Linked DNA regions of Homo sapiens. The protein of the gene in region 4 interacts with the protein of the main gene of each other region in a pairwise test. Each region holds a gene or a part of one and is shown on either strand. Other genes may lie near its edges.

Region 1 (7,431 bases), on a different chromosome or scaffold from region 4:
TTGTCGCTCATCAGCGCGTAGGTCTCCTGCGCCAGGCCGGGCTCTCCGTGCTGCTGGGCAAAGGCCAGCACGTCCAGGCAACTGCCCAGGTCCAGCCGCCGCCGCAGGGCTGCCGCCGTGGCGGGCTCCAGGGCCCGGGAGCTGGGCTTCCGGGGCCCCTCCACCACCCCCCAACCCCCGGGCCTCTGCAGAAACACCATGAGCTTCCGGGCCTCCTCCTGCTTTTCCGTGAGCGCCCCGCTGCGGCCGGCAGGGCTGCCCCCCTCCCCCGGCGCCTCCCCTTGAGGGTCCCCCGAGGCGGCCGGCCTGACCTCCTGCTCCGAGCTCGGGGCGATTTCGCACCTGCTGCGTTTCCGTAGCTGGGGTACCGGCTGTGAGCGCCTCGCAGAGGAGGAGGCCGCGGGGCCAGGCGGCCTCTGCGCGGGGGGCTGTGCGGGGCCCCTGGGCATCGCGGCTTGGGGCAGCGGGTCTAGACTTTTCTCCCTGGTTCCCTCTCCTCTTAGGCCTGGGGGAGGGTCTGGGCTGGGCGATCCGTTGGTCTCGGAGCTTCTTGGCTGTGGCTGACCTCCAGCCTCAACCAGGCCCCCTGTACCTGTCCCTATGACTGTCCCCACTGAAGAAGAGGGGCCGTGTCTGTCCTCAGAGTGTGTGGAAGTGCTGGGACCCACGGGGCTCCCGGGAACCGCCCTCGGGACACTCCCTTGGGGCCTGTCTTGCCTGGGGAAGGGGTGGCTTCTAAGAACCATGGCAATAAGGTTTCCCCAGCTGGCTGAGACCTGCCCCTCCTGGTAGCGCCTGGGGAGAGCCACACTCTCCTGAGGCTTTGACCCGTCAGCTGGGGCAGGGGATGCGGCTGGGGTTGGGGTTGGGGCTGAGGTGGGGGCTGGGGCAGGGGATGCGGCTGGGGTTGGGGCTGGAGTTGGAGCTGGGCTTAGGGCTGGGGTTGGGACTGGGGTTAGGGCTGGGGATGCGGCTGGGGTTAGGGCTGGAGTTGGAGCTGGGCTTAGGGCTGGGGTTGGGACTGGGGTTAGGGCTGGGGATGGGGGTGTGAGGGTTGGGACTGGGACTGGGGCTGGGGCTGGAGTTGCGGCTGCAGCTGGACTTGGGGCTGGGGCTGGGGTTGAAGTTGGAGCTGAGGTTGGAGCTGGGGCTGGGGCTGAGGTGGGGGATGAGGTTGAGGTGGTGGCTGAGGTTGGTGCTGAGCTGGGGGATGAAGCCAGGGCTGGGGCTAGGACTGAGGCTGGAGCTGAAGTTAAGACTTGGGCTGAGGCTGAACTTGGGGCTGGCGCCGCTCTGAGATTTTCGCCCACGGAAGGATCCTGGGTAACCTCCAGGGGCAAAAAGTCTGAAGGAGAGGGGAGAGTCAGGGCTTCAGGTGGGAACCCCGGGCCGGGAGCTGCGGGCGGGGAGGCGGAGCGCGGGCGAGGCTCACGGCTCCGGGAGGGCGCGCGGCTGTGGCCGGCTGCAGCCGGCTTTGCTTGCTCCGGGGGCCGGGTGGGCCCCAGGTCAGCGGCAGGACTGTTATCTCGGGAGCTGTCAGCCCCGGCCTCGCCGGCATCGTAGGCCCCTGTGGCACCCGGCCCTTGGGACGAGAGTGGGCGACCTTGAGGCGGACTCTCTAGCCAGGGGCGCGTGGAGTCTGGGGCTGGGCCAAAGCTCCGGGTGCCCGGGACCTCCCTGCTGACCCAGGGCCAGCCTCCTCCGGGGGCAGGGACCCCCGAGGCCTCCCTGCTCCAGCCACCCTTGGCCCCAGAGCCTTCCGTCTGAGACCCAGGCTGCAGGGCGCGGGGAGCGGGCAGCGCCGGGAGTGCGGGCTCCTGGGCGAGTGGGGGTCCTGTGGGGAGGCCGCGCGCGTGGGCGTCCAGGGCGGCGGCCCCGTCCACCGCGTCCCACACGCTCCCCGCGGCGCCCAGGCGGAGCGGGTCCAGTTTCCGGGGGCGGCGGGCTCTGTCTCCCGAGCCAGCGTCCATCCGCCGCCGCCGGCCCCGGCCTCTCCCCATCGAGCCCGAGGGCCCCGCGCCCGCCTGCCAGGGGCCAGTGTCCTGTTGCCCCGCGGGGCCTGCGGCCTGGCGAGAGGACGCCCTGACACCACCTGTCTCCGCCTCCGCTTCGCTGCCAGGGCTCCGAGGAGTGAAGTGGATCAGGAGGGGGGCGGACATCCCCCCTGCTTCGCTCCTGCCCAGGAGGGCAGTGCCTGGCCTGGGAGGCTCCTTTCCTTCCGCTCGGGGGGCCGCGGGGGTGGCACTGCCCCGTTGCTGTCCTAATGCCTCTCTGCGGGCCTCCTCGACAGCCGTCTTGAGTGGAAGCCGGGCCATGGCGGCCAGGCCCCCGCCCGGCGCTGCAGCAGGGACAGGGCTCTGCTGGCCGCGTCCTGGGGGCTCTGGTTTCCCCTGCCCTGGGCTCTGCCCCTCGCTGCCATCACTGACCTTAGACTTCGGTTGCAGGGCCAGCTCAGCTCCTCCTGCCTGATGAGGTTGAGCCCCGAGGGCTGTGGACACCGGTTCTGCCGCCTCTTGATCGTGCCCGGAGCCAAACCAGTGTAAGGCCAGCGCTGTGGCAGCCACCACAGCCAGCGCCAGGAGGGCCAGCACAGCACTATCCCAGTCATTGTCACTGTCCCAGTCCCAGCCCCAGAGGGGACCATCTGGCTCCAAGGTGCCCTGGATCATGGTTCAGGGCTGCAATAGAGGCCTGATGGCAGGCTGGCAGTGCATGCAGAGCACAGAGGCCTGGGCTGAGGCACCGGCCAGCGCCTGCCCCAAGGGCTGCCCAGTTAAGGTGGACCAGTCCTCCAGGGCCTGGGAATGGTGGGGTCTCTGCTTGCACTCAGGCCTGGGGGTGTCAGTAGGGCCTGGCTGCAGATATCAGGAGACAGCGAGGCTTATGGCAGGATAGGAGCCCAGGGTCTCTGCAAGCACCCCACCAGCTCCTGCCCTCTTCTCCTCCTCGTAGGCCCCAGGGTCCTCAGGCAGCGTTCCTGAGCTCTGTGCTGTCATCACAGCCAACCTGCTTCTGCCTGGTAGACCCTCACACCCCTAAATTTATTCCACACCCCACAGTCCCTCCTCTCAGCCTGGGCCCAGCTTCAGGGGGCTTGGCAGGGAAGGGTTACCCACAGGGAGATGTTATCTCTAGCTCTAGCAATGTGATGTGGCCCTGATGAAATCACCAGAAACCGGAGAGGCTGATTCCACTGTGGGCCAGCAGGGGAGGGGTGGGGGCCGTGCACGGGAGGGTGCAGGCTGTGCCTGACGGTGGTCTCTCAGGCTGAAGAGGGAGACCCTGGACACGGGTCCTGGCAGTGAGCATTATCATTGCAGGGGTGCTGTGGAGGTTTGTACTGGGGCACAGGGAGGGGGCATAGAGAGGAGACTGAGGCTCCCATAGCTCCTCCTCCAGCAGCTTTTGGACTCCTTACTCTGGGTTTACCAGACATGGGATAGGGTTATCAAGTCAAGAGAAAAAAAAAATTAATGGGATAAATAAAATCCAAACATATTTCTCTCTTTATGGCCAGGCTTATTTCAGCCCACCTAGACCTTCTAGGATCTCCTGGACCCCCTGCGCCCATCGAGAGTGTCTTGACTGCCCAGATGAGACTCTCACTGTGCCCCTGGAGAACCCTGAGCCCAGCCTGCCCCCTACTCCAGTTACCGCATCAGCCAGCACCTGGATCCCTTAGAAACCACCCCCCTCTGGCCCCAGGTGCTCTAATAGCCAGACTCTGGGTGTCTTCATCTCAGTCCTCAGCCTTCCCTTATCTGAGCTGAGGACTCGCCCTCGAGACCACATCCTGGCTGGTACCTCCTAGCCCTGGCTCAGGCCGGCATGTAGGTACTTCTGTTGGATGTGAGCACTTGCTTCCTGAGGGAGAAGCCTGGGCTCCTCCACCTGCTCCTTGCTTAATCCCATCTCAGGAGTGTCTCGGGCCAGGTGCCAGGTGAGGCTCAGACAAGAAAAAGAGCCTGGAGTCCCTGGGACAAAGGCAGGGCTCCCTGGAAAGTACCGTGTGTATTTTTCCTTCCTCTGGGACACAGCAGGCCTGGGGATTTCTCCCTTACTCAAGCAGCAAGGAGATGGCCTAGGAGTGTCCCTGGCACCCAGCCTGAACCCTACTGAGCCTCAGGTAACTCACCTCCCAGCTCCCCCTGGGACTATTAGATGACAGGGAGAGGGTGAGGGTGGGCCCCATGCCTTAAGGTGGACCTCAAGTTGAGGGAAGGCTTTCTAGACCGTGCCCTTATTCTCTGTCCCAGTCTCAGGCTCTGCCTCTTGGTTAAGTTTGGGGTCCAGAAACCTTCAGAGGATGGAGATGACACCCATAAATATTAGAGACTGAGTAGGGGGCGGGAAGCGGTGGCGGCAGCGCACCCCCGGGGTGCAACTGCCCTGGAACTCCAAGTGGTGGCTTCAAAACTGGATTAAAATTTATTTCCGCGAAACCCTGGAGTCACGGTCCGGCGCCGACTGGCGTTTTCTGCCGTAGACTGAGAACGCGTCAGGGATGGCTCCGTTGGCAGCGCGCGCGAGCGCCCCCGGGCCGCGCCTGGAGGGTTGACAGCGACTCGCGGGCGAACTGTGAACCCGCAGCCCCTGGGCTCCGAGCGCAAACCTGGCGACTGGGAGGGCCCGGGGAGCGGGTGAGCCAGCGCCAGCCCCGCCGGCCCCAGGAGCGCGAATTTCTCTACATTTCCGGCTGTGGCCGCAGTTGGAGGATGGGATCAAAACGGGCAAAAAAGTGCGACCTGGGCCGAGGTGTCGGATCGCCTCGAGGTGGGAGGCCGAGGTGTTGGATCGCCTGAGGTCAGCAGTTCGAGACCAGCCTGGCCGACAGGGAGAAACCCTGTCTTTACCGAAAATAGAAAAATTAGCCGGGCGTGGTGGCGGGCGCCTGTAATCCCAGCTACTCCAGAGGCTGAGGCAGGAGAATCGCTTGAACCCGGGGAGTTGCAGTGAGCCGAGATCGCGCCACTGCACTCCAGCCTGGGTGACAGAGCCAGACTCCATCTCAAAAAAAAGAAAAAAAGACACCAGCAAAGGGTTTTTTTCTGTTAATAACTAGGTCCCCCCAACCCCCCAAAAAGGAGGATGGTTAAAAGCAGAAAAGGCAAAAAATAAAGGCTTTTGGCCGGGCGTGGTGGCTCACACCTGTAATCTCAGCACTTTGGGAGGCCGAGGCAGGCAGATCACCTGAGGTCAGGCGTTCAAGACCAGCCTGGCCAACATGGTGAAACCCCTGCTCTACTTTAAAAAAAAAAAAAAATTAGTGGGGCATGGTGCCGGACACCTGTAATACTAGCCACTCAGAAGGCTGAGGCAGGAGAATCGCTTGAACCCGGGAGGCGGAGGTTTCAGTGAGCCGAGATCGCACCGCCACACTCCAGCCTGGGCGACAGAGCGAGACTCTGTCTTAAAAAATAAAATAAATAAACTCTTTTATATTTCAAAATCTGAAGACAAATCACTGTAGTGCAGATAAAATAAAACGTTCATATCATTTTATTATTTTAACGTGTTTCATATTATTTTAACGTGTGACATTAAACAATTTCAGGGCCGGGCGCGGTGGCTCAAGCCTGTAATCCCAGCACTGTGGGAGGCCGAGACGGGCGGATCACGAGGTCAGGAGATCGAGACCATCCTGGCTAACACGGTGAAACCCCATCTCTACTAAGAATACAAAAAAATTAGCCGGGCGCGGTGGCGGGCACCTGTAGTCCCAGCTACTCGGGAGGCTGAGGCAGGAGAATGGCGTGAACGCGGGAGGCGGAGGTTTCAGTGAGCCGAGATCGCGCCACTGCACTCCAGCCTGGGCGACAGAGCGAGACTCTGTCTCAAAAAATAAAATAAATAAAATAAAGTCTGTTATATTTCAAAATCTGAAGACAAATCACTGTAGTTCAGACAAAACCTTCATACCATTTTATTATTTAACGTGTTTCATATTATTTTAACGTGTGACATGAAACAATTTCAGGAAATTGTATTAGGTATTGCGCTCGTGTCTTCTTAGGCGTCCTCATCCCTTTTCACCTCGGAGCTCAGCGTCTTCCTCAGCAGCACTTCCATGTCATCTGCCCCGTGAAATCAGCCTAACGCCGTTTCTCAATGACGTGGATCGCCCTAGGCCACCGCAACCTTCCGGAAGCTCTCTCAGCTCAGTTCCCATTCTCCCACCATCTCTTGGTTCTCCTTCTACCTCACCGGTTGCTAGTCCTCCGCTTCGCAGCTGAAAATGTGCCCGGGGCCTACTGTGGGCCTAGCCAGGCCTGCTTACGCAGTGCAGTTTCCCATGAATGATGCCCAGTCATTATCACATAACCTGTGGCAAGCCAGCAAGATGGCCCTGGTGACAGCAAAAGAAACTGCACTAGGACCTGAATGTAGATCTCAGTCATGTTCCTTACTAACAGCACGTTTTGCAACCATGCGTTAAAGAAACATCTGACTCACAACAAAATTTTAAAGGGTTTATTTGAGTGAAAAGCAATTTATGAATTGGGGAACACCTGACTGAAAGAGCGTTAGTATTCCAGAGACAAAACATCAAGTGCAAGTTTTTATTGGGAAAATGTAGAAGCACAATAAAGAAATTATTTGATTGGTTACAGTTATAGAGTTGCTTTCTTTGGCTTATCCTGTTGGAAAGTCAGTAGTTATATAATCATGATAGTTGGTTACTTATGATTGGGTAGATTAAAATTTATCTCTGTCTAATGGAAGCATTTATCAGAAACAACTCAGCCAGGCATGGTGGCTCACGCCTATAATCCCAGCACTTTGGGTGGGAGGCTGAGGTGGGCAGATCACCTGAGGTCAGGAGTTCAAGACCAGCCTGGTCAACATAGTGAAACCCCATCTTTACAAAAATACAAAAATTAGCTGGGCATGATGGCAAGTGCCTGTAATCCCAGCTACTCGGGAGGGTGAGGTGGGAGAATTGCTTGAACCCGGTAGGCAGAAGTTGCAGTGAGCCAAGATTGCGCCATTGCACTCCAGCCTGGGCAACAGAGAAGACTCTGTCTCAAAAAAGAAAAAAAAGAAATGACTCATGCCTGTAATCCCAGCACTTTGGGTGTGAGGCCGAGGCAGGGCAGATGACTAGTCTTTGAGACCAGCCTGGGCAACATAGCAAGACCTTGTCTCTACTGAAAAACAAACAAACAAAATAATGGCTCAAGTTAAGTTTCACTTATGTTTTCAATTTAAGCAAGGCTGAAGTCACTTACGAGACCTAACTTGTTTTGTCTGCTTAGGGATTCTTCAGGCCCGGTCTCCATTTTAGTTTACTTAAACAGCCCGGGTGCAGTGGCTCACACCTGTAATCCCAGCACTTTGGGAGGCCAAGGCAGGTGGATCACCTGAGATCAGGAGTTGGAGACCAGCCTGGCCAACATGGTGAAACCCCGTCTCCACTAAAAATACAAAAAA
Region 2 (7,025 bases), on a different chromosome or scaffold from region 4:
ATGGTGAACACTGATTTTGAAATTTTTCTTTCTTCCTTCATTTCTTTTCTTTTTTTAGGAAAATGTCTGATGAATTTTCGGTAAGTTGATCAGTTTATCTGTGATAAGTTTTTCATCTCTTAAGAAAAACAACATGGTCCTAACTGGGCTACGTAAATCTTTTCACTTAAAAGAGATGCTTTAACCAGGCATGGTGGTGTGCACCTGTAGTCCTAGCTACTTGGGAGGATCCCTTGACCCCAAGAGTTTCAGGCTGCAGTGAGCCATGATTGTGCCATTGCACTCCTGCCTGGGTGACAGAGTGAGACTCTGTCTATAAATAAATAAAAGAGATGCTTTTTGTGATTCTTGGCTTTGGGGGTAGTAAAGAGATTTTGATAGGTGATTTGCCTTAGTTTACTGAGATAATAGCATGTTTGGAAATGTTTCCTGTATTTATGAAAATATGTATTTCTTTAAATGAAAATTTAAGATGTTACTTCTGTTGTTCTCTTTTACCCTGATAGTATTAATAGCCAACATTTATTAGAAATTATTATATACCAGGCACTCTGTGAAAGTGTACTACATGAAATATCATATTTAAGCCTCAAGTTAACCCTAAAACAGTTTTGAAACTGAAGAGGCTCTATCTCAGAGTATGTAGCTCCTTTGAGGTTAAGCCAGGATTCAAATCCATATCTTGACTGTTAGTTCTATCTTCTTAATTACTGTATTTTGTTGTATTAATACAGCAGAGAAATGAAGCACAATATGATTAGTTGTATTTAGAAAACGAGTTTCTCTGAAGAATTTGCACTGTAAAGTTGATACGCAAAGTAGCATCTCAAGGTTTATGTTAAATAGAGTATTTTTTAAATGACTAGCTTAGCTTTTGAAGATATTCTTGAGGTTTATAATCCCTGCCCCTATAGGTTACTATTCTCTGTGGGTTTATAATGGTGTTCGATGTAACTTTTCCCTAGATAGGAAAGACGTATCTGTTTTGTGTTCCAGTTGGCAGATGCACTACCTGAACACTCCCCTGCCAAAACCTCTGCTGTGAGCAATACAAAACCTGGCCAACCTCCTCAAGGCTGGCCAGGCTCCAACCCTTGGAATAATCCGAGTGCTCCATCTTCAGTGCCATCTGGACTCCCACCAAGTGCAACACCCTCCACTGTGCCTTTTGGACCAGCACCAACAGGAATGTATCCCTCCGTGCCTCCCACCGGACCACCTCCAGGACCCCCAGCACCCTTTCCTCCTTCCGGACCATCATGTCCCCCACCTGGTGGTCCTTATCCAGCCCCAACTGTGCCGGGCCCTGGCCCCACAGGGCCATATCCTACACCAAATATGCCCTTTCCAGAGCTACCCAGACCATATGGTGCACCCACAGATCCAGCTGCAGCTGGTCCTTTAGGTCCATGGGGATCCATGTCTTCTGGACCTTGGGCGCCAGGAATGGGAGGGCAGTATCCTACCCCTAATATGCCATATCCATCTCCAGGCCCATATCCCGCTCCTCCTCCTCCCCAAGCCCCTGGGGCAGCACCACCTGTTCCATGGGGCACCGTTCCACCAGGAGCCTGGGGACCACCAGCACCATATCCTGCCCCTACAGGATCGTATCCCACACCAGGACTCTATCCTACTCCCAGTAATCCTTTCCAAGTGCCTTCAGGACCTTCTGGTGCTCCACCAATGCCTGGTGGCCCCCATGTGAGTGTTCAATTTGTTATTTAAAGTGTACTAATTGTACATAGCACAACTGACATTGTTTCTCCCCAGTTTTGGATGGAAGATTAAGAAGGCTTTTAAGTTTTTAAAAGAGGGTGTGTGTATATTAAATAAGTAAATTTCAAACCTTCAGGTAAAGCATTTAAAAGGATGAAAGCACTGTTTTAAGTATTCCTTGTGCTAAAAAGAAGAATTTTCCAAAGATCCCCAAAGACTTTGTAATGTAGTAAGCAGTGTCCTCAATAGCATCCTTTAGGTAAACTCTGAGATTCATTTCATTGGGCTTTTTGTTTTATTATTATTATTTCTCAGTATTGTTTTATAGCATCACACCAAAGTACAGTTCAGTAAAAGCAGTCTCTACCTGTCTAGCTTGATAGAGGTAGATTTTTAGAGAATCCAAGGCAATGAGTAGGTAATGTTCATCTTTCAAGCAGTTCTCGAGCTCAAGATTACACCCCTATTCTTTATTGTCAGTTACATGTAATGCTTTATGCTTTACTGTCAGACAACCCAGTGTGGGGTTAACATCTTAGTTGAGGAGCCTGCCTTGGTCATATAACCAAATGGAAAAGTACCCCACTTCCCCTGTGAGGTAAGCCAAACGAGTATCCAAACGCAGAGTAAAGATTTTCCTTAGGAAAAAAAATCTGTTAACTCTTTTTTTTTTTTTTTTTTTTTTTTTTTTTTGAGACAGTCTTGCTCTGTCACCCAGGCAAGAGTGCAGTCTCTCGGCTCGCTGCAATCTCTACCTCTCAGGTTCAAGCGATTCTCCTGAGTAGCTGGGATTACAGGCGTGTGCCACCACACCGGCTCATTTTTGTATTTTTAGTAGAGATGGAGTTTCACCATGTTGGCCAGGCTGGTCTTGAACTCCTGACCTCAAGTGATCCGCCTGCTTCAGCCTCCCAAAGTGCTGGGATTACAGGCCTGAGCCACCATGCCCAGCCAGGAAAAAAAAAAAATCTGTTAACTCTTAGTACGAAAATAACTAGCCAGATCTCTGATTAGATTAGTCAAACATCCAATCCAGCTATAAAGGAAAAGAAATCTTTAAAGTACCCCTAAAACTTCCTCCTTGCATTAGTGTAATTTCTTTCTTGCTATATATATTATCTAAAAATATTTGTTTTGCAAAGTGTATGCCAGAGTAAATGATGTGACTTGCTGTTTGGATTTATTAAGCAATAAATTTACTTTAAGCCACAGTAAGGAGTTAATAAACTCCATTTGCAAAATCTAGAAGTTGACTTTTTCTTTTTTCTATTGCAGTCTTACCATTAAGTTAACAATGGACGAAGAGATGACGCTTTGCTTTTTGAAGTACATGTATATGCACATGAATGCATATATAAAAATTGCTGGTTTCACTATTAGAGGGCATTCATGAAAGAACAACTCTTGCACCTCTCAGAGAAGATAACTGCCTCTTGTACTTGGATGCGTAGTACATCATATGTATACAATCAGATAAAAGCATAGAAGTAAATCATTCGGATGTGATTTTTATTTGGTTTTCATGGAAAGTTAAAGTGATAAAGTATATTGAATAGTTCTTTGACAGAATTTGTTTAAACTATGAAACTACACACTTAAAAATCTAAGATGTGGATTATTGTTAGAATCTGCAACTTCATTGGCAAATTATTTCAAGTATTTTTCTATAATCACTTTCCCCTTCTAAATAAATAAACTTCGAGAATAACCCATCATAATCCAAACAAATGATGCCTCAACATTTTGAGCTGCTCTGTCGGACAAATAAACCTGGTCCTCTTGAGGTTATATTTTGGATATACATTTTTAAACTGTCAGTAATTATTGTCAGATGTGGAGTTCAATAGCCAGCCAGTGTTCATTTTTATCCTTGAGCTTTTAGTAAAAACTTCCTGGTTTTATTTTTAGTCATTGGGTCATACAGCACTAAAGTCTGCTATTTATGGAAACTAACTTTTTTGTTTTTAATCCAGGCCAACATGTATGTAAATTAAATTTTTAGATAATTGATTATCTCTTTGTACTACTTGAGATTTGATTATGAGATGTGCATATTGCTTTGGGAAGAGCTCGAGGAAGGAAATAATTCTCTCCTTTGTTTTGAACCTCAAACTAGATAAACCCTAGGAATTGCTTAACTGCAACAAGTAATTTTCATTCCCACAAAAACCTGAGGCAGCTCTTTTGCCCAGAGCGTTCCCTGTAGCCACCCCCACCCCACTTGCCCTTGGTTCTTTAGAAGGAGCACACACATCCCTTGATTCCTCCCTGATGTGGTAAACTGGCACACTCCAGGGGTCTAAAACATAAAACAGTTGTGTTTAGGGAACCTTAAGTCATGCAGACATGACTGTTCTCTTTGTACAAGTGTGAATCAAAATATGTATCTCTTTTTCAGAGTCTGGTTAAGCTATGTCATTGTCTACTGCATAGTTTCCTGAGTCTGTTTGTAAAGTGCTTATGGCTAACAGTTCAGTTCTGTATTTGTTGACAGGTAAATAAGTGGAGTTGAGTGCCATCTTTGAAAAAATTACCCTCTAGCTCTAACACTGAAAATAATAATAAATTGTAGATCTCTGCAACTAAGTTTAAAGCAGTGTGACTGTGTTGCTTAAATATCAAGTATTGTTTATAACCACCAAAAAAAAAAAGCCCTGGTAGTTTTTTGGCACCTTATGTTTAAATCAGATTCTTAGATTTGGAGTAGACCTGACCTTGTTATTTATTAGATAACATTTTGAATGTATCCATTGGATTTCTAAAATGTATTGTGAATTTCTCAGACAAACAGGATTTATGCTGGAGCTCTGTTTTGCTTAGAAATAAAATATTTAGTAGTTTATTTCTGCTCTAATTAAAATGTCAAGAATGCCAAATGCTGCCAGTTTTTTGGTTTGATAGCTACCTCCTTCTAAGAAAGCAAAATGGTTACCTTTGAGAGGAACATTCAGTGTTTAATCATCCCTTATGTTAACTAGATGATAGATTCAAGCTTTTAGAAATGAGAAAGTAGAAACTAATTTGTTAAGATATTTTCAGACTGCGGAATGTTGTTAGCTTTTTCTTTCACTTCTCTTCAAGGACAGGTGTTAGCTGTCTACAATACTGTTGAACTCTGTTGTCAAAGTAGCCCCCTTAGTCTACAAGGCAGGTAGCCTTGGCTTGAATTATCAATATCAAAATGTCAGTTAACCATGGAGGGATAAAGTAATGTGAAAAGTGAGATGGCTGCAAAGATAGCTCTCCTTACAGTTATTTTGGCTGTCCTACATTGGGATAAGCTGACAAATTAGCAGTATTTAGTTTAACACTGGAGCAAATATAATTTGAGTAGGAAGAAGAGATAGCAGGTTTGGGAATCTATAATTATGAAGTCCATTGATTTTGGGAGAAAATCTGTTGCTAAAGGATTTGAAGGGCCATGAACACAATTTGGGATTATTACTCCCTATAAGTATAATAATTTTGCTAGTGACCCATACTGTCCAGTGTGCCCTAAATCATACTGCTATTGTACTCCCTTTGTTTTCAAGGACTTTGCAACTGGTATTTGGGGGAGATTTTTTTTTTTTTTTGAGACGGAGTCTCGCTCTGTCGCCCATGCTGGAGTGCAGTGGTGCTATCTTGGTTCACTGCAAGCTCCATCTCCCAGGTTCACACCATTCTCCTGCCTCAGCCTCCCAAGCAGCTGGGACTACAGGTGCCCGCCACCATGCCCGGCTAATTTTTTTTTTTTTTTTTTTTTAGTAGAGATGGGGTTTCACTGTGTTAGCCAGGATGGTCTCGATCTCCTGACCTCGTGATCTGCCCGCCTTGGCTTCCCAAAGTGCTGGGATTACAGGCGTGAGCCACCACGTCCGGCCGATTTTTTTTTTTTTTTTTAATGTAAGAATGGAGATAAAAGGGATAATATAATTTGCTTTTATATTGTTATTTTTGTAAAGCATCTTTTCTTCAATTCTTGTTGGCATTCTGGGCCAAAATATTTCAGGTTGGTTCGGTGTGGAGTTAAGAAAAGCAGGCGTTTTAGTGGAGAAATGGGGAACAGCATCAAGAAAGGCTTTTTTCCTTTTTTCTTTTTTTTTTGGAGACAGAGTCTTGCCCTGTCACCCAGGCTGGAGTGCAATGGCGTGATCTTGGCTCGCTGCAACCTCTGCCTCCAGGTTCAAACGATTCTTCTGCCTCAGCCTCCCAAGTAGCTGGGATTACAGGTGCCCGCCACCACACCCATTTTTGTATTTTTAGTAGAGACGGGGGTTTCACCATGTTGGCCAGGGTGGTCTGAAACTCCTGACCTCGTGATCCGCCTGCCTCAGCCTCCCAAAGTGCTGAGATTACAGGCGTGAGCCACCATGCGTGACCTTTTTTTCTTTTTAAAAGGGAACAATGTTGCTTTCAAAACAAGACATGCTAGGCTGAAACTGATTTATGGAAAAGACTGCTTGTTAGCAAGTATATTTGGTCTTGAGGGGGATACAGATTATAGAATATGCTGACATTTGGGCTTCAGAGGAAGAATTTTCAAATCTAATGGAAATAGTTGAGGTGTTCAGGAATGCTGTTTCTTGGAGTTGGAAGCTTAGGTTTTGAAATGTTGAAACCAAAAAGACAAAAATTAAAACATAGACCTTAGGTCGTCATTCACACCCGGTTCTCAAGAATCAAGTGGAGCACTTCAAAGACCTTGGCTTGTCTGTCCCATCCTGCCACTTTCTCATCTTTTCATGCTTTTGAAGACACCATTTACAGCTCTGACTCAGCCCTATTTTGTGTAAAGTAATATATTGATTATTCAGAAATAGACAATACATTTTTTAATTACCCAAGGACTGACTGTTTTGTGCATTTTACTGTTGGTTGTCTTCAGTAGAGAATAGTAATAGGGCAGAGAAAAGTATATATTTTGCCTCAGTCAGTCCCACCACCACAATGGACTATTGGGATATTTTCTAAAAAACCAATCAATTTGCCCATGATTACCTCACAAATAATTAGTGCTACCTGGGGTACTCTCAAATATACAGCTTTTGAAACTGTAGATGAAAAAAGCTCTACTCAGAGTTTTTGTCAAGACTGTGCCTGGGTTGAATATCAGTCAATTGCCTACACTTCTAAACAATAAGTGCCAATGTCTCAATTTTCTCACCCTGAATGATAGAAGCTAGCTTTATCAAATGCCAAGGTTAGAAAGCCTGGAAATAAAACTTAAGCACAGACATTCAAGTTTTTGAAAAGCATAAGCCTAAATTCAGATAAATCACACTGATATATTGTACTATGCATAGAAAGTTGTAGGTGGCGTTCAG
Region 3 (7,025 bases), on a different chromosome or scaffold from region 4:
CAAATGATCCTCCCACCTTTAGCCTCCCCAACGTAGCTGGGACCACAGGTGCATGCCACCAAGCCGGGCTAATTTTTTTTTTAATTTTTTAGTAGAGGCAAGGTCTCTCTATGATGCCCAGACTGGTCTGTAACTCCTGGGCTCAACTGATCCACCTTGGCCTCCCAAAGTGCTAGGATTATAGGTATAAGCCACTGTGCCTGGCCCAAGGCAAGTTTTAATTATTGATCAGTCACCATAGGGTTCCTGCCTGTGAGGGAACAATGTGTGCAGAAGACTTGAGCCAGGGGTTGTATTGTGCAACTGCAGCTAGGTCTGAGATCAATGGTAGGAGATGACATAGCCTTAAAGGCCTGGTTTGGTGTTCAAAGGCCAGTGGGAAGGCATTTAATGGAATGTGGTGTGAAAGGAGTTTTGCTTTTTAACACAACAGTCTAGATGCTATCTGGAAAATGAATGGTGGGAAGAGATACATGGAGACAAGATGGGAAGGAATGAAACAAGTCTAGGAAGACTGGTGGGAGAAGAATGTGAAAGAATGTGTAATGTAGAGAAAAATGACTGAGTCTGGAGACTGACTGACTCACCAAGAAATACTACGCACCTAAAAGATACAGGAACTGTAGTGGTAAAGAGACACAGTTCCTGCCTTGGTGGGTCCAGTAACAGTGGAGTAGGAAATCAAGAAATGTACAAATATATGATGACAAATTTTAGAATGAACGAAAAACAGAAAATAGGCATTAGCTCAGATTGGGGTTCTGAGGAAGTGACATTTAAACAGACAGGAGCATGGGTGAGTGGGAACACTGAGTGATGAATTTCATGTAGAAAGAAGGGAAATTCTTTTTTCCTTGATAAATAGCTGAGGTTTAAAGTAGAAGCTGGCCAGGAGCAGTGGCTCAAGCCTGTAACTCCAGCACTTTGGGAGGCCGAGGTGGGAGGATCACTTGAGCCCAAGAGAGTTCGAGACCAGCCTGCGCAGTATAGTGAGACTCCCATCTCTATATAGGAAAAAGATAAAAACTGAGGGAAAAAAAAGAAGTTAAAAGCCCATTATTCTTTTTTCCTTCTGTACATTATCTCCCCTCTGGACACTTGTTCAAATTATTTATATTTTTTACCAAAGCCCTTTACTGGGATACATTTTGGTGCTGGATGCTTTGTATTCATATTCTTATTTCGTGGTGAATCCTTTAGATTGAAGAAATTTTAGGACACAGCTTCTGCTGCTCGTGTCTGTTCACCACATGAGAAGCACAAGATGCATCTTGGGGGCAAAAATTCCCCATCATGGTATATAGTATGTGAGCAGATCATAGACCATATTTGTTATGGATGTTTTCCTTTTCTGTTGGAAATATTGAAAATTGGGTTTAATGGCCTCAAAAGTATCTTCCAACCCAGCAATTTTATAAAATTCCTATTCAGTCACTCTTAAGTACTTCCTGCTGTCATGAACTCAAGAATTATGATACAAGACACTAATTCCATTTAAAAAAATGCACCAACGCACACATTTGTACTTAACTTTTCAGGGGCACATGTATCTGAAGTGTGAGAATTCTAACCCAATTCACACAACGTGCCAAATTCAATACACAGAGCTATCCTAAAAGCTATTAAGGACTGAGAAGTGGCCAGGCACAGTGGCTCATGCCTGTAATCCCAGCACTTTGGGAGGCCGAGGCGGGTGGATCACGAGGTCAGGAGGGCTAATACGGTGAAACCTCGTCTCTACTAAAAATACAAAAATTAGCCAAACGTGGTGGCAGGCACCTGTAGTCCCAGCTACTCAGGAGGCTGAGGCAGGAGAATGGTGTGAACCCGGGAGGCGGAACTTGCAGGGAGCCCAGATCGCACCACTGCACTCCAGCCTGGGCGATAGAGCGAGACTCCGTCTCAAAAAAAAAAAAGACTGAGAAGCTGCAGATGGAGCATATATTAACATTTTAAATGTTTACTCCATTATTACTACATTTATATCCACCAAAGGGGATCTGTCCTGATCTGCATGCAACAGGAAAGCTGTTTTCCATTACCATCTATCAGGTCCTTTCACTTACTTGCTGTAGCTAAGTCTGGGGGGATAACACACTGCTTCCCTCAGCGTTCATTTCTCAAAAGCTGTGTTACTAAAAAGCATCAAGAGTAGTATAATGTAATGTTAGATAAATTTTATCTATACTGTTTGTACTGAAATTAATATAAGGGACAAATTCTGACCGATCATAAAACAAGCAACCATTGCTGTTTGATATTGACTGCATTTTGCAAATGCCCAAGAATCATGATATCTAAGGTAAATGTTCCTTAAAACGTTAATAAAAAGCAAAACTGCTACTAGACTTCTGTTCCTAAAAATAAAATCTGTTCTTAACTGAGGGCAAATATCATTATTTGGATTAGCTGGAGTAACTGGAAATAATATCCAAAGAAATGGGTGTGTATAGATTCCGCTAAACAAAAATACAATTGATAGGAAGATCAATTTTGTTTTTCCCAGACCACCTCCTGTACCTCTCTCCCTTGAGCAAGCAGCCCCTAAATAGGTGCATAGTCAAACCCTGGAGCTGGAGAGAAAGGAGGCCTGTGGGGTATCCTCAGCCCCCTGAGGAAGGTACATTCCTTGGGATGGGAATTCTTCCTGAAGCCTCCATGGAAACATGACACCTTAGTCAGGTTCCAAGCAGCAGGCCCTGAGCTGAGACTGCTGGCCCTGAGCTGTGCTGCCCAGGGGACCACTGCATTCTGCCTTGGGGGAATTGTGCAGAACAGAGAGATGGAAGGAGGAAAGGAACATGACAATTTACAGAAGAGGGGCTCCGGCACCCAGAAATAACATACCACACCTCAGGTTTCAGGGAACAAGAAGTGCTAGACAAAAACCATAATGATTTTAACAGGAAAAAAAGAGCAACTTCAGATACCACTCCATTACAAAACTTAAAAAAAAAAACTTTCTGGAACTAAAACTGAGTTTTAAATTTAAAAGTTAGTAATGAATTCAAAGAAAGGAAAACGAAGTAGAATAAACATCAAAACAGAAACAATGGGGGAGAAGATAAGAGATTTGGAGGACATACTTTTTCCAAAGCAGTTTCCTCTATACTTTAGGAGTTTTACCAACACACGCCTGTGCTGTGTCTTTTCAAAATATCCTAATGGGAACTACAGGGATCTTAAGCCAGGAAAATTCACTTCTAATCCTTTATCGCTTCTCTTGCTGCCTCCATCTGTGTCTTTTTCTCCTTCTGGAATTCCTACTATTCACATTATTTCTCCTGCCTGAAAAGAAACCAACCCTATCAACACCCTCATCTTAAGACTTCTAGCCTCCATAACCGTGAGAAAATTTGTTACTAGTCTGTATTACTTTGCATGGCAGCCCTAGCATACTAATACAACGTGTTACCAAACCAGACAAAAACATCACAAGAAAACTAACTTCTGAATTCTATGTACTTTAAGAGGATCGTATATGGTATCTAACACCAACTTAAATTAGAAAAGATATGTATTTGTCATAAACATCATAATTCTATTAGATGGCACTATTCTAATCAAATAACTTATGATGGATTTATCGGGATATAACAGTAAGTAAGAGTATCTGTATTTGTATTAGGTGAAGCATTTTGTCTAACAGGAGGCATACCGTTAGGATAAATCTAATAGGAGTCTTAATCTGTCATGCCTTTTCTTAATTATGATGGCTTTTTTTTTTTAAACGGGGTCTTGCTTTCTTGCTCAGGGTGGTATGCAGTACTGCAATCACAACTCACTGCATCCTCTATGTCTTTACAAGTGTTCGCTATCATACCTGGCTAATTAAAAATTCTGTTTTTGAAAAGATAGGGTCTTGCCATCTTGCCCAGGCTTATCTTGAACTCCTGAGCTCAAACCATCATTCCACTCTCGGTTCACTGCAACCTCCACCTCCTGAGTTCAAGCAATTCTCCTGCCTCAGCCTGGGATTACAGATGCACACCACCACACCTGGCAAATTTTTGTATTTTTAGTAGAGATGGGGTTTCGCCACATTGGCCAGGCTGGTCTTGGACTCCTGGCCTCAAGCAATCCGCCTGCCTTGGCCCTGCTGGGATTAAAGGTGTGAACCACCCCGCCCAGCCTGTGTCATTTTCAAGAGATCTTTTTCCTAGCCCCAGCCCATATAGTTATCTGAACTTACAAAGCGTTGATGTTCTTCTCTAAATTTTTACACTTACATCTACAATGAACTTGGAATTGATTTTTTCATTTCCAAAAGAGTTTTACAATTAATCAAGTATCACAGGCTAATTTCACTCAAGAACTCAGATGCAAAAGTCCAAACCAAGTATCAGTCAACCTAATCCAGCAATATATAAAGCGATATTATGACCAAGTTGGATTTCAGGAATGCAAGTGTAGTTGATCATTTCAAACTCAATCACTGCAATTTCTCATACTGATGTATCAATGGAGACAAAGTATAGAGGTACTTTTTTAATGTTTTATGAGAAATGCTAAGCTGAATTTATGTCAAGGAAGAACTGAGGCCATATATAGTGGCTCACACCTGTAATCCCAGCACTTTGGGAGGCCGAGGTGGGCAGATCACTTGAGCTCAGGAGACCACCCTGGGCGACATGGCAAAACCCCTTCTCTACAAAAAATACAAAAAAAAATAGCTGGGCATGTGGCACACACCTGTAATCCCAGCTACTTGGGGGGATGAGGCAGGATTGCCTGAGCCCAGGAGGTTGAGGCTGCAGTGAGCTCTGTCCACACCAGGGCACTCCAGTGTGGGCATCAAAGTGAAACCCTTTCTCGAAAAAAAAAAATGTGGAGGGCTGGGCGTGGTGGGTGACTCACGCCTGTAATCCCAGCACTTTGGGAGGCCAAGGCAGGTGGATCACTTGAGGTCAGGAGTTTGAGACCAGCCTGGCCAACATGGTGAAACCCCCCACCCCCTGCCACTCCACCATCTCTACTATTAGATGGGCGTGGTGGTGCTGCACACCTGTAATCCCAGCTGCTCACGAGCCTGAGAATCGCCTGAACCCAGGAGGCGGAGGCTGCAGTGAGCCTGGATCCTGCCACTGCACTCCAGCCTGGGTGACAGAGTGAGAATCCGTCTATAAAAAAAAAAAAAAAGGAAAACAAAAACAAAAGTACATCTTAGAGCGATCACATGAAAAAGTATTCCTGCTAATAAATGAAAAGGAATCGATTATTAAAATATCACTAATTTGAAAACCATTTAAGAAAATAATGGATCTACATAATGATCATTAATAGCTGCTGTAACATGACAAAAGAGAAGATACCAACCAATATGTGCCTCCGGTTGGAGCACAGCACCTCAAGTAAGTTTTCTTTCCAAAAACTCTCATCTGAATCAAAACTACCTCCAGACTGGGTGCGGTGGCTCACACCAGTAATCCCAGCACTTTGGGAGGCTGAGGCGGGTGGATCACCTGAGGTCAGGAGGTTGAGACCAGCCTGACCAACAAGTTGATACTCCGTCTCTACTAAAAATACCCCTGTAATCCCAGTTACTCAGGAGGCTGAGGCAAGAGAATTGCTTGAACCCAGGAGGCAGTGAGACAAGATCACACCATTGCACTCCAGCCTGGGCAACAAAACCAAAACTCCGTCTCAAAAACAAAAATAAAACCAAAACCAAAAACTACCTCTAGAGGTAACTATCACTTTACAGGAAATATAAAGAACAGACACTCAAAGACCACCACGGAAAAACAATCAGAAAAATGCGAAGTGTGGGGAAGGAATGCTGCAAGACAGCCCGACAAATATAACGGGGGATGGAGCCTTTTAAGAAAGGGGAACCTCTAGATGATCACTTACACAGCATCCATTCACCACGCTTGAAATGTGTAAGTGTAAAACTCACACTGGATTTTGACAAGTTCACAGGATTTTGTTTTTAATTATTTTAGTCAAGATCATGGAGAAATGAAAAAGTGTTTTAAAATTACATGCAAAATAGTAGTGGATATATATTAGGTTAAATTATTAATACAATGAATCATGTTTCCTTTTACCACTAAAGAATATAAGATTACATTTATAGCATACATTATATTTCTATTGGACAGTGCTGCTCTGAATTTAAAAAGTTATCTACAAAATATAAGGTGTGACTTTGGATCCTGACTCAAACCAACCAGCTGTTTAAAATATTTAATACATGCCGGGCGCGGTGGCTCACGCCTGTAATCCCAGCACTTTGGGAGGCCGAGGCCGGCGGATCACGAGGTCAGGAGATCGAGACCATCCCTGCTAACATGATGAAACCCCGCCTCTACTAAAAATACAAAAAATTAGCCGGGCATGGTGGCGGCCGCCTGTAGTCCCAGCAACTCGGGAGGCTGAGGCAGGAGAATGGCATTAACCCGGGAGATGGAGTTTGCAGTGAGCTGAGATTGTGCCACTGCACTCCAGCCTGGGTGACAAGAGCAAGATTCCGTCTCGGAAAAAAAAAAAAATTTAATACAGAAACACTTAAACCCTGGATACTTGATATTTTGGAATGTATTTTTAGGCATGACAGCAGTATCATGGTTAGGTTTTAAAAGTTCTTAGAAATACTGCGGATTTATTTATTAATAAAGACCTTATTGGTCTGGGATTTGCTGTAAAATAAGCCAGGGCGGTCTTGGCTGAGCTCAGTTCTCCCTCTGCCCACCCTGTTGCCCTCCACAAGAACCGTAGCTCAGGGCAACTAAGACAGGGCAAGGGCCCTGGCAGGGGAGGGGTGTCCCGGTCCAACTTGGGACCCAGTTGGGACTGGGTCCCAAGTCCCAATTGTGTCCCTGGACACATGACTTCTCCCAACCTCCATTTTCTCATCTGAAACATGGGGCTAATAGCAAGCCCTTCTGGAGTAGTCCTGAGCATGTAATTAGAAAATGGAGTAAAACTTCTAGGACCTAGTAAGAGTCAACTAATGTGGTTCTCCCGAAGAGCAGAGAACCAGAGCTCAGTGGGGGAGAGGGAATTAGAGAAGTCACCTCCAA
Region 4 (7,025 bases):
TCAGGGTTTTCCAGATTGCTCCTATATCCACTGAGGAGTCTCCCTGAAAATCCTCTGAGGTTAGTACAGCAGATTTACTCCTTCCTGAAGGGAAGCTCAGAGAAGTAGAATGACTTGCCCAGGGTCCCACTGCTAGAGTTGGGAGTAGGTCTTTTGCCTCCAAACCAGTACTCTTGCTCCAGAGCTAAGCCGTGTCTCACATGTGGACTAACAATGTCTTTGGACGGTGCCCAGCAGGGATTCTGGTGAAGGTCAAGACCACAATTTCCCCATACTGACTGTAAGGCAGAATTAGATGCACACTCCAAAGACTTACAGGTGTCAATAGCAACAAGGGTATCATCAAAGTCATCTTCATCCTCTTCAGCAGGAGGCTGAGGAGAGCGGCCCCTGTATTAGAAACAGGGGTTAAGTCATACAAGAACAATGGATGAGCACAAAGGAAAGAAAATGAATGTTCTGCTGTAATCTATGAGTGGCCTCCAGACTGCTTCCTGAATCTCCATTTCCTTCCACAGAGGTGGGCAAAAGAACTCTGAAACCCTACATCCTTGCAAGGAGAGCAATGACCGTCAACTCCTACGGTGGAGACAGGGATTGAAGAAGGCATGCTCTGCTGAAGGGGGGCATCAGAATCATTTAGGGAATTTTTTCACTCTTTTTTTACACCCAAAGATTCTGATCCATACCCTCTGCATGTTGACAACCACTTCCACACTGATCTCTGTTACTGTTTGGAGGCTGTGGTATCCCAAAAGGGTGCTGGCCAGGAAGGGGAATGTGCAAGAGCCTATATAAATCCCAATAATTACTATCTATCCATGTACCAGGCTTCTTAAAATCCTACATCTGTAAGAATTTGAGATGACCCATTTTTTTCAGTGTCCTAAATTATAAACGATATTCATTTTCCTACCAAAACGCTAAAAAAGGGACTTAACACTGTTGGTTTCTGCTGTACAGGAACGAGGAAGAAGGGTAGAAAGGTAGAATCTAACACTCAGGGTCCTGCCTGGACAGTCTGGGTGGTCGCAGTGCACTGCATGCACAGATGGGGAGCCCATGCCCATTTGGCTGCTGACTCTCCCAGCAGCAGGCTTCCCTCTGGTGGAGGGCCCCTCTGGCCTCGCCAGGCCAGGGCTAACATGGATGAGCTGTGCTCATCACATGTTAAGTCCATTCTAGGAAACTTTCCCTGCCAGCCCAGGATCAGAGCGAGTGTTCTTCCTTTGCTCTCCATCAGTAAGTAGCTTCCAGGCTTCTGCTCTGTGGGAGGCAGTGGAAGAACCCCATATGAGGTGGGATCCATGTCCTAACTTAAATCATAGCCTGTGAGATCCAGGCCCTGTCTCAGACAGTAACAAGCTAGTTAGAAGGTGGACTCCGCCAGATAGGAAATAGAATGTCAGATGACTAGTCCAGATGAGTACAGTGGCCATTCCTAGTTTTCATAATTGCAAAAGGCTTCAGACAGGAACTGAAGGAAGGAAGGAGGGAAGGGAAGGACTTGGTCTGGAGGGAAAGGAGGGAAGGGCTTGTTAGGGAAGGGAAATGACCAAAGCAGAGGCTGCTCCCTCTTCTGAACTCCTGAAACTCACCTGCATCCTGACTACTCACCTCAGAGGTTGTGGCTTACTAGTGTATGTGTCTGAGTCCCCACACTGGAACAACAGAAGGCAAAACCCACTGTCCATCTGTATGTTGCTAGTGTCCAGCCCAAGAGTGGGCACTTCGTGACAGCACTGTGAGAACTGACTGAATGAGTGGATGAATGGGAAGAGGATGTGTATTTGGGAGTAGTGTTAGGAAACAGATATTTCTTTCATTACGGGTATCAAGCAGCTGACTGCAGGGGCAGTAAGGCAAAGGACAGAACAGGCAGGCTGGCATCTCACGCGTGAAAGTCTAAGATATTTAGAAGTTACCCTGCAGGTAAGAAGGGAGGAACTGGGGGAAGGACCAAAAGTTTAGGAAAGCTGAATCTGGTAGCAAGTACGGGAAGGGACAGGAAGAGTGTGAAAGCAGAGGGAATCTTTACTCAGCCCCTCTAGGTTAGTGCAAATGTCCCCAGCAAGCACGAGGCTATGGATATAGAAACCTACCAGAGCAAGGGTGACTGCTGCCTCATACACCCACCTCCTATCCTCTCGGTGCTCAAAGTACCCCCGTCCCCGGTTTTCTTCATAAGGCCTCTTTCGACTCTGGAATTGCTGCCTGTCTGGCTTGAGTTGAGAAGCTTCAGGCGGGAGGAAGCTGGTGGGTGCTCCTTGCTTCATCTCTGTCTTCATTTCTATTGTCAAGACAAATTCAGATGGTCAAGACACTCGCAAGCTCCCCAGCTATCACTTTTCTGGTCCCTTTTCCCTTGAGAGATGTGAGCAGGATCCTCACTACAGTGATGAAGGGCTGGGCACAGGCAGCTTGCTGAGTTCAACAGAAGCCTGCTGAGCCAGCCAAGAAGGCCATACTGGAGAACAGGGTTAGGATCTGAGATACCATGACCCTAAATTCTCCAATTTCTCTTCCCAAAGAACCTCTCTGCCTTAGTTCTTACAAAGCTTCTTCAGTCTGGCAAGGGAGGGGGAGAGGATGAATTCAACAGGGTACTGTGGTCCTGCAGCTAACTCTACGGGCTTTAGTTACCCTACCAAAAGAGGCCAGAATCACTCCGGTTAAGCCATCCCATAGGTGCAATAACCTCTTTAAGTCATACCATTAACAGAAAGTCAGGATGGGATACCGTGCTGTGGACCACGGGTAAGTCCTAGTCTCAGGCAGACTCCAGGAATCAGTGCCTAACCAAGAGCAAACCACAGATGTAGGCTACCTTCATTTCTCCCACAGCATTAATCCCTGATGCTGAAGCTCATTCACATCTACTCATTTCTGCATTCAACCCCAGACCATTTTGGATCACTCCCCAGCTTCGGCATGTGGACCACATCTCTCAGAAAAGTCTCCTGGTTCTCTAGGGCTGGGATGGTGCTCAGCCATCCTGAAGAGAGCTTCCCTGGTTCCCAGCAATAGGTTGGGCTCACACAGGGCTCCTGATGAATGTCTGTGGATAACGGCACAGAAAATATTCTCCTGTGGCTGAATGATCCTACAAGTCTCACAGAGCCTGACACAAATCTGCGGTTTAACCTACATTCAGTAAAGTTCTGAGCCACCCACAAGAAATGTCTGGGGATTTAACTTTGTGGATGAACCAGAATGGCGTTAGACAAAATCAACCAGATACACTAAGAAAAGGCACTGGGAGGCCACAACACAGTAAAAGCAGCACAAAACTGGGGGTCAGTCCGGGCTCCATCAGTTCTCAATAGTGGGACCCTGCTTTCCAAATAGTAAGGCACAAATGATAAGGAATGCTGCTTATTAACCAAGAGGACTAGCCTGGGAGCAAGTATGCTAGGTTGTAGCCCCAGCTCTGCCATCGGACAAGCCAACTCCTCAATCTATAAAATGGGGAGGAGAGGCCAGGCGCAGTGGCTTACACCTGTAATCCCAGCACTCTGGGAGGCCGAGGCAGGCAGATCATGAGGTCAGGAGATTGAGACCATCCTGGCCAACATGGTGAAACCCCACATCTACTAAAAACACACAAAAAATTAGCTGGGTGTGGTGGCACGCCCGTAGTCCCAACTACTTAGGAGGCTGAGGCAGGAGAATCACTTGAACCTGGGAGGCAGAGGTTGCAGTGAGCCAAGATCACACCATTGTACTCCAGCCTGGGCAACAGAGCGAGACTCCATCTCAAAAAAAAAAAAAAAAAAAAGGGAAGGGAGAGTTGGCATCATGGGGAACTTTGTTCTGTAAAGACATATACTTAACATGATTGGGAAATCCTAAGTTTAAACGATACAACACAAGGTTTTTTGTCTATTTTTTTATTAAAAAAAATATTTTCAGCAACACCAGCCCAAGAAGACACAAGGTTTTTAAATTTAATTAAAAAAAAAATTTTTTTGGAGACAGAGGCTTACTGTTGCCCAGGCTGGAATGCAGTGCTGCCATCATGGCTCATGGAGCCTCAACTTCCTAGCTCAAGTGATCCTCCCACCTCAGGGTCCAGAGTAGGTGGGACTTGGCCGGGTTCAGTGGCTCACGCCTGTAACCCCAGAACTTTGGGAGGCTGAGGCGGGCGGATCACCTGAGGTCAAGAGTTTGAGACCAGCCTGGCCAACATGGTAAAACCCCGTCACTACTGAAAATACAAAAATTAGCCAGGTGTGGTGGCAGGCGCCTGAAATCTCAGCTACTTGGGAGGCTGAGGCAGGAGAATCGCTTGAACCCGAGAGGCGGAGGTTGCAGTGAGCTGAGATCGCGCCATCGCCCTCCAGCCTGGGGAACAAGAGCGAGACTTCGTCTCAAAAAAAAAAAAAGAGTAGCTGGGGCTATAGGATTGTGCAACCATGCTCAGGTAATATTTTTATTTTTTATAGAGACAGGGTTATGTTGCCCAGGCTGGTCTTGAACTCCTGGACTCAAGCAATCCTCCCACCTCAGCCTCCCAAAGTGTTGGGATTACAGGCATGTAACAGCCATCGCACTCGGCCTGTTTTTATTTTTAAGGCAAGGTCTTCCTGTCGCCCAGGCTGCAGTGCCGTGCACGATCATAGCTTACTGCAGCCTTGAACTCCTGGGCTCAAGTGATCCTCCTGACTCAGTCTTCTGAGTAGCTGGGACTACAAGCATGTCACCATGCTCAGGCAATTTTTAATTTTTTCTAAAGACAACAGGGGTCTCACTATGTTGCCAGGCTAGTCTTGGATTCCTAGGCTCAAGTGATCCTCCTGACTTGGCCTCCTAAAGCGCTAGGATTACAAGCATGAGCCACTGTGTTCTAACCTACTTTTAATTTTAGGTTTTTTTTTTTTTTTTTTTTTTTCGTGACAGGGTCTTGCACTGTCACCCAGGCTGGAGTGTAGTAGTGTAATCATAGCTCACAGCAGCCTCAAACTCCTGGGCTCAAGTGATCCTCCTACCTTTGTCTCCTGAGTAGCTTTAACTATAGGTGTGTGCATGTAGTCAGTCATAGCCATGCCTGGCTAATTTTTAAATTTTTTGTAGAGAAGGGGTCTCACTATGTTGCCCAGTCTGGTCTGGAACTCCTGGTCTCAAATGATCCTACTACCTTGGCCTCCCAAAGTGTTGGAATTATAGGTATGAGCCAGCGCACCTGGCCTGAGGCCTGACACACACTTTCTTTTTTTTTTTTTAAATTCTGGACTTCTCAGAGCCTTTAATGTTCTAACAAGCACAGTGAATTTCCAAGAGACGATATAGCACATGCTACAGTTTCCAGACACATTTGGCTAAGGAACCCTTTTCTGAGAATCCCCTAATAATATCCCCTGAAACAATAATCTTCAGAACATGAGAAATACCAGATTAGACTTAGAAGGCTCTTTCTGGCTCCCCCATTCTAAGATTCTAAATAAGATTCAAGTATTAGTCTAGGGGTCTCAACTCTCCAGGGTGCTTATACTAACATCTTTTTTTTTTTGAGATGCAGTTTCACTCTTGTTGCCCAGACTGAGTGAAGTGCAATGACGCGATCTCGGCTCACTGCAACCTCCGCCTCCTGGGTTCAAGTGATTCTCCTGCCTCAGCCTCCCAAGTAGCTGGGATTACAGGTGCCTGCCACCATGCCTGGCTAATTTTTGTATTTTTAGTAGAGACGGGTTTCACCATATTGGCCAGGCTGGTCTCGAACTCCAGACCTCAGGTGATCCACCTGCCTCGGCCTCCCAAAGTGCTGGGATTACAGGAGGGAGCCACCACACCCGGCTGATACTAACATCACTTTTTTACAGATACCATGGAACCTCCCCTCTCCCAACACTTGGAAATAGGACTGAGATCTTTCCTTTAAACAATTCTTGCCAGAGTGACAATGTTTAGATGAACTGCCCAAGAAAAAAGATGCACAGTTTCTCTGGGAAGACCCGCTCTAAGCAGGGGGTAAAGGCTCCATGTAGATTGTTTCCATCCAAAGAGATGAACCATGTGTATTTTCCTACCTGGACGATAGGCCTGCTGCTGCTCCATTTCCAGTGGTCTCCTCTCGTAGCCTGACTCGTTTTCTTGTTTGATGACTTGGGTATCGTAGAATTGGTTCTGCCTGGTAATATTGTCCATGGCATCTTAAAACAAAATTAAAAATGGCCAATTAGAGGGGCGGTTCATGAAGAACCCTGGACCAAAGCATCCAGAAGGCATCTGCAGGTCCAGGAGCTCAACTAAGAGTGGTAAGAATAATAATATTAACTATTCATGGCATGCATACTATACTCCAGAGCCTGGGATACAGCTGAAGACAAGCTTGCCCCACTGAAGCCTTCAGTTTAGTGAGACAGACAAATCTTAAAGACACACAAAAATTTAATATGATTGTGTTGAAGGCTACAAAGTAGTACCAGGAATGAAGAAAGGGACCTGGAAAATAACAGATAAGCCTTGATTCAAAGGATACACAGGTAATGACTCAGTGATGAGAATGGAGAATGTTACTGGGGTTGGGATAACACGTGTGAAAGCTCAGAGGTGGAACTAAAACCAGAAATTCCCTCAAGAACCTTGCAGCCAAACCCAGAGAGAACTTTAGAAAGCTAGGATGGGCAGCATACAGGCTCTCCTCCCCAGGGGCTAGCTCTCAGTTAGGGCCCCAAGGGCCCTACCAGTGGCTATGCCAGGAGCCGTGAGCCAGAACCAAAGGGAAGGAGAGACTATTCTGCCACTTGCTAACTGATCGGATTCCTTCTCAGAGGATAAATACATCTGGGCACAAACCAGGTGCAGCCCAAAGGGAGGAAAGTCACAGGTCATGTGGTTTGCTACCGGTCTGTTTACCAAGGTTGAAGGAGGGCTTAAGGGAGGCATGAAGGGGGCTCAAAGGACTTTGTTGTAGCAAGTAAGGGAGAGAGGAAGAAATAGCATTATCTCCTTAATTGGAATATGGGGCCCTTTCAAACTATTCTGCTGCTTCCAGGCTCCAAGCACAATGCTCCTCTTCCCACAAA

The links.
Region 1: the proteins of HNRNPUL1 (region 4) and KLHDC7B interact in binary tests that used the Homo sapiens proteins (3 or more experiments, as listed by UniProt).
Region 2: the proteins of HNRNPUL1 (region 4) and MAPK1IP1L interact in binary tests that used the Homo sapiens proteins (3 or more experiments, as listed by UniProt).
Region 3: the proteins of HNRNPUL1 (region 4) and HNRNPF interact in a two-hybrid assay, tested with the Homo sapiens proteins (3 studies listed by BioGRID and IntAct).

Annotation. Positions count from the first base shown.
Region 1 is NC_000022.11:50,541,482-50,548,912, reverse strand, and holds the start of KLHDC7B (kelch domain-containing protein 7B), read right to left. Parts: upstream 3,015-7,431; 5' UTR 2,670-3,014; coding exon 1-2,669.
Region 2 is NC_000014.9:55,061,622-55,068,646, forward strand, and holds part of MAPK1IP1L (MAPK-interacting and spindle-stabilizing protein-like), read left to right. Parts: intron 1-58; coding exon of another isoform or gene 59-62; coding exon 63-80; intron 81-996; coding exon 997-1,704; intron 1,705-2,994; coding exon 2,995-3,006; 3' UTR 3,007-7,025.
Region 3 is NC_000010.11:43,399,178-43,406,202, forward strand, and holds part of HNRNPF (heterogeneous nuclear ribonucleoprotein F), read right to left. Parts: intron 1-7,025.
Region 4 is NC_000019.10:41,267,347-41,274,371, reverse strand, and holds part of HNRNPUL1 (heterogeneous nuclear ribonucleoprotein U-like protein 1), read right to left. Parts: intron 6,150-7,025; coding exon 6,027-6,149; intron 2,291-6,026; coding exon 2,137-2,290; intron 391-2,136; coding exon 317-390; intron 1-316.